2 separate regions of the Homo sapiens genome follow, and region 1 is linked to region 2. A link means that fine-mapping ties the variant in region 2 to the expression of a gene that starts in the linked region. Tissue or cell type: whole blood. Region 2 holds a variant in brackets; the other region holds the start of a gene. All regions are shown on one strand. Distances are between the middles of the regions.

Region 1 (4,112 bases), 48 kb before region 2:
TAGAAGGCACACATGCTAAAAGGAAGGAAAAACTAATTTCTTTCCGTTTTAGAGAAACCAGTGAAAACTTCCTGAAGGGAAAACATCTGAACAGAGGTTTGAATAATGGGTAGGACTGCTGTTATAGACAAGATGTGAGGGCATAGTAGGAAAAGCCAAGAAGCAAGTAAGTGCAAAGTATATTCAGAAAAAGTAAGTAAATCAGCATGGTTGGGGGAAGAGTGATAGAAGATTATCTAAGAAGAGTACAGACAAATCCTAAGAGCTACTACTTCCTATTTTCTTCTTTAGCCCACCTCTTTATCCCCCTCGGACCCAAAAACTTAGAAAAGGGTTAAATATAATTGGGAACTCAGTAATAATTTATAATAATAAAAACATTAATGGCAACTAGAATTCAGAGTGGGATTATCACATGCCATAAACATACTAAATACTTCATATGCATTATCTTGTTTGAATTTCCTTTTTAAAATCTACTAGAGCTACATAGATGGCATGTGCCTGTAATCCCAGTACTTCAGGAGGCTGAGGCAAGAGAATTGTTTCAGCCCTTAAGTTTGAGACCAGCATGGGCAACATAGCAACACTTCATCTAAAAAAATAAATAAATAAAAATTAAAAAATTTTTTAAATCCTAAGAGATAGGTACTAACATAACGCTCATATCATAAAAGTGATAACTGAAGCTTATTAAGAATAAGTAACTTTTCCAAGATCACAGTTAAAAAATGGATTCATATACAACTCATCTGTCTGCAAAGCCTATGAACTAAACCAAAATCAATGCTAACAAATGGACAGACCAGAAAATTTACAATCAGATTATCAATTTTCAAATACCGATTTTTTATTTTGGGGAGAAATACAGCGACTACTTACCCTAACCTTTAATGAATGCTTTTGTCCTAAGGCTACAGAATGCTCTGGTATAAAGCTTCAAAATTTCCTACAACTGAGTGGCCTTAGGCAAGTTATTTTACGTTTGGGGACTTCAATTTCCTTGTCTGAAAAACGGGTATAGCAGAACCTACTCGTAGAATGTTATGAGAGTGAGTTAAAGCATATAAACCGCTAAACACAATGTCAGGTACGACGTAAAGCAGAGTTGTCCACAACACGGTCCCTGCCCATGTAAGCAAGTAATCAGAGAGGTAACTTGAAAAGTTGGACGCTTCCATATGGAGATGGAATAGTCTAACCTTGTCCAGAAAGATCACAGTAGACGTTCGGAAATCGCATTTACAATCGCCCTTGGGTTATGGGTAATCCTGATCCCTGTACAGTTTATGCAATAAGGTGGAGAAAAAATAGAGTGACAAAGCAGAGACTCGGGCTGTCTCATTCGCCTCAGTAACCCCAGAGCCTAAAACACAGTTAGGCACGGAGGCGCTCAGTTACCAACTGGCAGAATACTAAAGATGCCTTGGGCCCTTCCGAAACTCCGAAGCGAGAGACTCACCCCAAGGCCAGCTTCCCCCGGCTCCTCAGGTTATGTATCCATAACGCACCTGCAACATCAACACAAGCCGTCAACTCAGATTCCATCTCGACTCCCTTCTGTCGCTTAACCACTAAGAAATCCTTACCCAACTGTCCCAGTACTGCCGCCGCCATCTTTCGCCCTCCCGCTACGGAAGCCGCCGAGTTCAAGCGCCTTCTGGACAGCACGCATGCGCAATACTCTGGATTTCCTGTGGGGCTCTCCCACAAGCAGTACTTACACCCCAGGTGCCGTCACGAAGATCGCAAGCACTGGGCCGGCGCTCGAGGTGTGGTCAGGCGAACCTGGCTTGGGAATGAATTAATTAATAAAGGCCGAAAGCACGTGGGCTTCCGAAAATTCACCTGGATTCAGAAAAACTAAAGTCCCAACTCACAAACTAGAAAGGAGTAGGGGAACAGAATCCGTGAACAAGCCACCTAATCCGGTGGTCCTCAGTTTTCTTATCAGAAATGACTAACCTTAGGGCACAAGCTTGTTGTAAAGATCAGTTGAAATAGTGTGAAAGCTATTTTATTTCATTTTATTGAAACAGGGTCTCTCTCTCGCTTAGGCTGGAGTGTGGTAGCAATGACCTAGTCTCACTGCAGCCTCGACCCCGGGCTCAAGCCACCCTCTTACCTCAGCCTCCCAAGTAGCTGTGACTACAGGCGCACATCACCACGCCCGGCTAATTTTTGTATTTTTTATAGATAAGGAGTTTCCCCAAATTGCCCAGGCTGATCTCGAATTCCTGGGCTCAAGCAATCTGCCCTCCTCGGCCTCCCAAAGTGCTAGGATTAGAGGTATGAGCCACGAAACCTAGCCTAAAATCTCTTTTAAAGAGCAAATAGTTCAAATATGATGTATGCTGTCCTAATCCCTACTAATCTGGTTGACCTTCAAGAATGAGTTTATATTCATCTGGCATTTACTGCCTTATGTCAGGCAGGTATTTCACTAAATCTCATTTATTCCTCACAGCAATCCAACAAGGCATGGATTATCATTTTCCTTCTTCAAATGAGGAAACATATTTAGGATATGTTAAAGTCTCTCAACTAACAACTGGCAAACCAGTGATCAATCTACGACTAGGTGCCTCCAAATTTGTGCCCCTAGACGCCTTCAAATATATGTATTTGACCCCTCTGTATTAGAATAACAGGTAGTTCAGATTGCGGTTTGCTACCTATGCAGGAATGTCAGATACCCAATGCAAACAAGCAACACACGAGTAGTGCAGAATCTGAGCATTTTAGCATTTTTGAGTTGAAAGGAAACTTTCTTCCACACCATTTACCACATACAGCTTCCTTCACACAGCTGGCCCTCAATCAAGCAAATCAAGAGTCACTCCATTTGCTTCTCCTTCATCTTTGAGTACCCAGAACCCAGAGCCAGAATTTCCACCCAGTTGCAGAAACTGTTCTTTCCCTTTTTAATTCCAGATTCGTACTTTCATATTTTTGTTTGTTTTGTTTTTTTGAGACAGGGTCTCACTCTATTGCCCAGGCTTGAGTGCAGTGGCTCGATCACAGCTCACACCAGCCTGTCTCCCGGACTCCATATTGTAATGCCCAACCTTGTTTTTACTAACCCTGTTTTTAGACTCTCCCTTTTTCCTCTGATCACCTAGCCTTGTTTCCACTTGAATTGACTCTTGCTTAGCTAAGAGAGCCAGACAGACTCCATCTTGGCTCTTTCACTGGCAGCCCCTTCCTCAAGAACTTAACTTGTGCAAGCTGACTCCCAGCACATCCAAGATGCAATTAACTGATAAGATACTGTGGCGAGCAATATCCGCAATTCCCAGGAATTCGTCTGATTGATAGCACCCAAAGCCCCCAGTCTATCACCTTGTAATAAATAGTCTTAAAGCCCCTGCACCTGGAACTGTTTACTTTCCTGTAACCATTTATCCTTTTAACTTTTTGCCTACTTTATTTCTGTAAAATTGTTTTAACTAGACTCCCCTCCCCTTTCTAAACCAAAGTATAAAAGAAAATCTAGCCTCTTCTTCCGGCTGAGAGAACTTTGAGCGTTAGCCATCTCTTGGCCACCGGCTAAACAAATGGACTCTTAATTCGTCTCAAAGTGTGGCGTTTTCTCTAACTCACTCAGGTACAACAATATTTTTGTTAAGTGGCCTCTTGTGCATATCTTTTTTTGTTTTGTTTTGTTTTTATTTGAGATGGAGTCTCGCAATGTCGCCCAGGCTGGAGTGCAGTGGCGCAATCTCTGCTCACTGCAACTTCCGCCTCCCAGGTTCAAGCGATTCTCCTGCCTCAGCCTCCCTAGTATTTGTTGTCTAGGGATTGTTGCATTTTACTTTTTTTTTTTTTTTGAGATGGAGTCTCGCTGTGTGGCCAGGCTAGAGTGCAGTGGCGTGATCTCCGCTCACAGCAACTTCCGCCTCCCGGGTTCAAGCGATTCTCCTGCCTCAGCCTCCCGAGCAGCTGGGATTACAGGCGCCTGCCACCACACCCGGCTTATTTTATTATTTTATTTTATTTTTGTTTTTTAATAGAGACGAGGTTTCACTATGCTGACCAGGCCGGTCTTTTAACTCCTGACCTCGTGATCCTCCCGCCTCGGCCTCCCAAAGTGCTGGGATTACAGGCGTGAG
Region 2 (4,261 bases):
CCCGGGCTGGAGTACAGTGGCATGATCTTGGCTCACTGCAATCTCCGCCTCCCAGGTTCAAGCAATTCTCTTGCCTCAGCCTCCCGGGTAGCTGGGATTACAGGCACCTGCCACCATGCCCGGCTAATTTTTTGTATTTTTAGTAGAGACAGGGGTTTCACCATGTTGGCCAGGCTGGTCTCGAACTCCTGACCTCGTGATTTGCCCACTTCGGCCTCCCAAAGTGCTGGGATTATAGGCATGAGCCACTGCAGCCAGCCTATTTTTCAGATTTTTAGTAGAGACAGGGTTTCACCATGTTGGCCAGGCTGGTCTTGAACTTCTGACCTCATGTGATCCACCTGCCTCGGCCTCCCAAAGTGCTGTGATTACAAGTGTGAGCCATCACGCCTGGCCAGGCAGTTTCTTATAAAGTTAAACATGCACATGCCCCATGTCTCAGCAGTTCTGCTACCTAGATATTCCACTAAAACAATGAAATCAGATGGCCACACAAAGACTTGTACACAAATGTTTACAGCAGCTTAGTGCACAGTAGCCAAAAACTAGAAACAACCCAAATGTCCATCAACTGATGAATGGATATGCAAACTGTGTTGTGTCTATGCAGTGAAATACTATACTGTTTAACAATAAAAAGGGCCAGTCTTGGTGGCTCACACCTGTAATCCCAGCACTTTGGGAGGCCAACGCGGGTGGATCGCTTGAGCTCAGGAGTTTGAGACCAGCCTGGGCAACATGGCAAAAACCTGTCTCTAGTAAAAATACAAAAATTAGCCGGGTGTGGTAGCACAAGCCTGTAATCCCAGGTACTAGGGTGGCTAAGGCAGGAGAATCATTCAAATCTGGGAGACGGAGGCTGCAGTGAGCCAAGATGGAACCACTGCACTACAGCCTGGGTAAGAGAATGAGACCCTGTCTCAAAAAAAGAAAGTAAAAAGGAACAAATTACTGCCACACAAATAATATCGGTGTTAGCCGCGCGTGGTGGCGGGCTCCTGTAGTCCCAGCCACTCTGGAGGCTGAGGCAAGAGAATGGTGTGAACCCAGGAGGCCAAGCTTACAGTGAGCCGAGATCGTGCCACTGCACTCCAGCCTGGGCGACAGAGCAAGACTCCATCTCAAAAAAACAAAGAAGAAGAAGAAGAATATCGGTGAATCTCAAAAGCTTTAAAGACACAAAAGACTATATACTCTGTGGTTCCATTTATATGAATTCTAGAAAAGAAAAAATTAAAGTGACAACCAGTTCAGTGGTTGCCAGTGGGGTGGGGCCAGGAGATCGCCTGCAGAGGAGCCGGAGGGCATATCTTCAGTTGATGAAAATGTTCTGTCTTGATTTTGCTGGTAGTGTTGTAACTATATATGTTTCTCAAACTACATACTTAAAATTGAGCACATTTTTCTTAGTTGTACTCCAAGCTTTGTTTTGTTTTGTTTTTGGTGGGTTTTGATTTTTTTTTTTTGAGACAGCGTCTCACTCTGTCACCCAGGCTCGGGTGTAGTGGCTTACTGCAACCTCCGCCTCTCGGGTTCAAGCAATTCTTCCGCCTCAGCCTCCCAAGTAGCTGGGATTACAGGCGTGCACCACCAAGCCCGGCTAATTTTTTTTTTTTTTTTTTTTTTTTT[A/TTA]GAGACGGGCTTTCACCTCGGGTGATCCGCCCGCCTCAGCCTCCCAAAGTGATGGGGTTATAGGTGTGAGCAACTGCACCCAGCCTTTATTTTGTTTTTAATTACAGCTTTTAGTTCCAGAAACTCACTTTTTGTTTTTGTTGTTTGTTTGTTTGTTTTGAGAGGGAGTCTCACTCTCATGCTCAGACTGGAGTGCAGTGGCGCAATCTCAGCTCACCACAACCTCCACCTTCCGGGTTCAAGCAATTCTTCTGTCTCAGCCTCCCGAGTAGCTGGGACTACAGGCACGCGCCATCATGCCTGGCTAATTTTTGTGTTTTTAGTAGAGGCGGGGTTTCACCATGTTGGCCAGGCTGGTCTTGAACTCCTGACCTTGTGATCTGCCCACCTTGGCCTCCCAAAGTGCTGGGATTACAGGCATGAGCCACCGCGCCTGGCCCACTTTTTGTTTTAATTAAATGCAAATGTAAAGGTGTTTTCTCAGTGTGAACAGACTTTAACACCGGGACGTGTGTGTGCTGCTGTGCAACTAGACATGAGAGTTTCCGATGTGGGAAGCAAAAATGGGTGGCGGAGACAAGAGGAACTTTCAAAGTGTGAATTGTGTGTACTTGTTTCCAAATGCGGTTCACAGGAACAGTTTGGTGGCATCCTCTGCGCCTACCGTGGGAGGATGTTTAACTCAGACTCTGGCTTCTCTCTCCAGCTCCTGCTTCACATTTGCCATGACTTGACCCTGGCAGTGCTGAGCCAACAGATGGCCTCCTGGGACGAGGCTGTGCAGGCGCTCCTTCGGGCGGTGGTCCGGAGCTATGACTCAGGGAGCTTCACCATCATGCAGGAAGTGTACTCAGCCTTTCTCCCTGACGGTAAGTGACTTCCTGCTGCCTGAGGCACACCCTTTAATGGACAACATCACCACCATTAGTGGTGTGGCACTGGGAGTACCTAGATTCTTAAAAGATGGAGATTGGCCAGCTGTGTCATTTTAGTAGAAAGTTTGGATTCTCTTACCGAAGCTTTTAAGAACAACTATACTGTTTCCTTTACCTGGCCCTACCCTCTTACAGCCTCCTGTCCACTTTCCACAAAGTTTAAGGGAGAGAGAAATAGGAATGTAGTTACATGTTAGTAAGAACAGAAAAGAACAGCAAAAAAGATAGACATTCCTTGGGCTGCATAGTCAGTCACTGAACTAAATCATTGTGATTTTTCAGAGAGACAGTGTGATCTGTTGTCGTGGCCCCAGAGCCTTCAGTAGTACAAATGGAATACTCTATCATGCTTTGAATGACTCCTAGGATGTAGTAATGAGAACACTGTCGCAAGCCAGGAAATGTTTAGCCTCCAGTTGGCTCTTGGTGGAAAGGCATGTGGCCCGGTGGATCACACTGTTGTCCTTTTTCCTGGGGTCTGCTTCTTGGTTGATAAGAAATAGAACATAAGGGCAGGAAGCCACATTTCTGGCAACTAGAGAAATGCATGACCCAGTATCTTTTTCCTCTTTTCCTAGGCTGTGACCACCTAAGAGACAAGTTGGGGGACCATCAATCCCCTGCCACACCAGCTTTCAAAAGTTTGGAGGCCTTTTTTCTTTATGGGCGTCTGTATGAATTCTGGTGGTCTCTCTCCAGACCTTGCCCAAATTCCAGTGTCTGGGTAAGGGCTGGTCACAGAACACTCTCTGTTGAGCCAAGCCAGCAGTTAGACACTGCCAGCACTGAAGAAACGGACCCTGAAACTTCTCAGCCAGAGCCAAACAGGCCTTCAGAACTAGACTTGAGACTCACAGAAGAAGGTGAGCGAATGCTGAGTACTTTTAAGGAGCTCTTTTCAGAAAAGCATGCCAGTCTCCAAAACTCACAGAGAACTGTTGCTGAAGTCCAAGAGACCTTGGCAGAAATGATCCGACAACACCAAAAGAGTCAACTCTGTAAATCCACAGCAAATGGTCCTGATAAGAATGAACCGGAAGTAGAAGCAGAGCAGCCCCTCTGCAGTTCTCAGAGCCAGTGGTAAGTACTGAGGCAAGTACAAGACGGAATGAAAAATGACCCTGCTGGCTAGGAACAGTGGTTCATGCCTATAATCCCAGCACTTTGGGAGGCTGAAGCAGGAGGATCACTTGGCCCAGGAGTTCACCACCAGCCCGGGCAAAAAAGCGAGACCCTGTCTCTACAAAAAAAAAAAAAAAAAAAAAGCCCGGGCACAGTGGATCACGCTTGTAATCCCAGCACTTTGGGAGGCCGAGGTGGGCAGATCACTTGAAGTAAGGAGTTTGAGACCAGCCTGGCCAACATGGTGAAACCCCGTCTCTACTAAAAATTAGCTGGGTATGGTGGCACATGCCTGTAATTCCAGCTACTTGGGGGGCTGAGGCCAGAGAATCGTTTGAACCTGGGCAGCAGAGGTTGCAGTGAGTCAAAATCGCACCAGTGCACTCCAGCCTGGGCAACAGAGGGAGACTTCATCTCAAAAAATACAAATAAAGTAACCAGGTGTGGTGGCATGTACCCTGTAGCTACTTAGGAGGCTGAGGCAGGAGGATCACTTGAGGCCAGGAGCTCAAGTTCAGCCTGGGCTACATATTGAGACCCTGTCTCTAGAAAAATTAATTTTTTTAAATTAGCCA

Evidence for each region. PIP is the estimated chance that this variant, and not a neighbour inherited with it, causes the effect.
Region 1: it holds the start of MRPL22, and the variant in region 2 is fine-mapped to the expression of MRPL22 in whole blood (INTERVAL, PIP above 0.99).

Annotation. Positions count from the first base shown.
Region 1 is chr5:154,938,616-154,942,727 of GRCh38, reverse strand. It overlaps MRPL22 (mitochondrial ribosomal protein L22), which reads right to left and starts at 1,655. Exons shown (of 7, transcript NM_014180.4): 1 at 1,590-1,655; 2 at 1,463-1,511. The coding sequence starts at 1,617. RefSeq lists an enhancer at 1,556-1,715.
Region 2 is chr5:154,890,624-154,894,884 of GRCh38, reverse strand. It overlaps GEMIN5 (gem nuclear organelle associated protein 5), which reads left to right. Exons shown (of 28, transcript NM_015465.5): 25 at 2,336-2,498; 26 at 3,143-3,644. Among named protein-coding and RNA genes, the nearest start is that of CNOT8, 34 kb to the right of the region's middle. The variant A/TTA (reference allele first, on the strand shown) is at 1,630.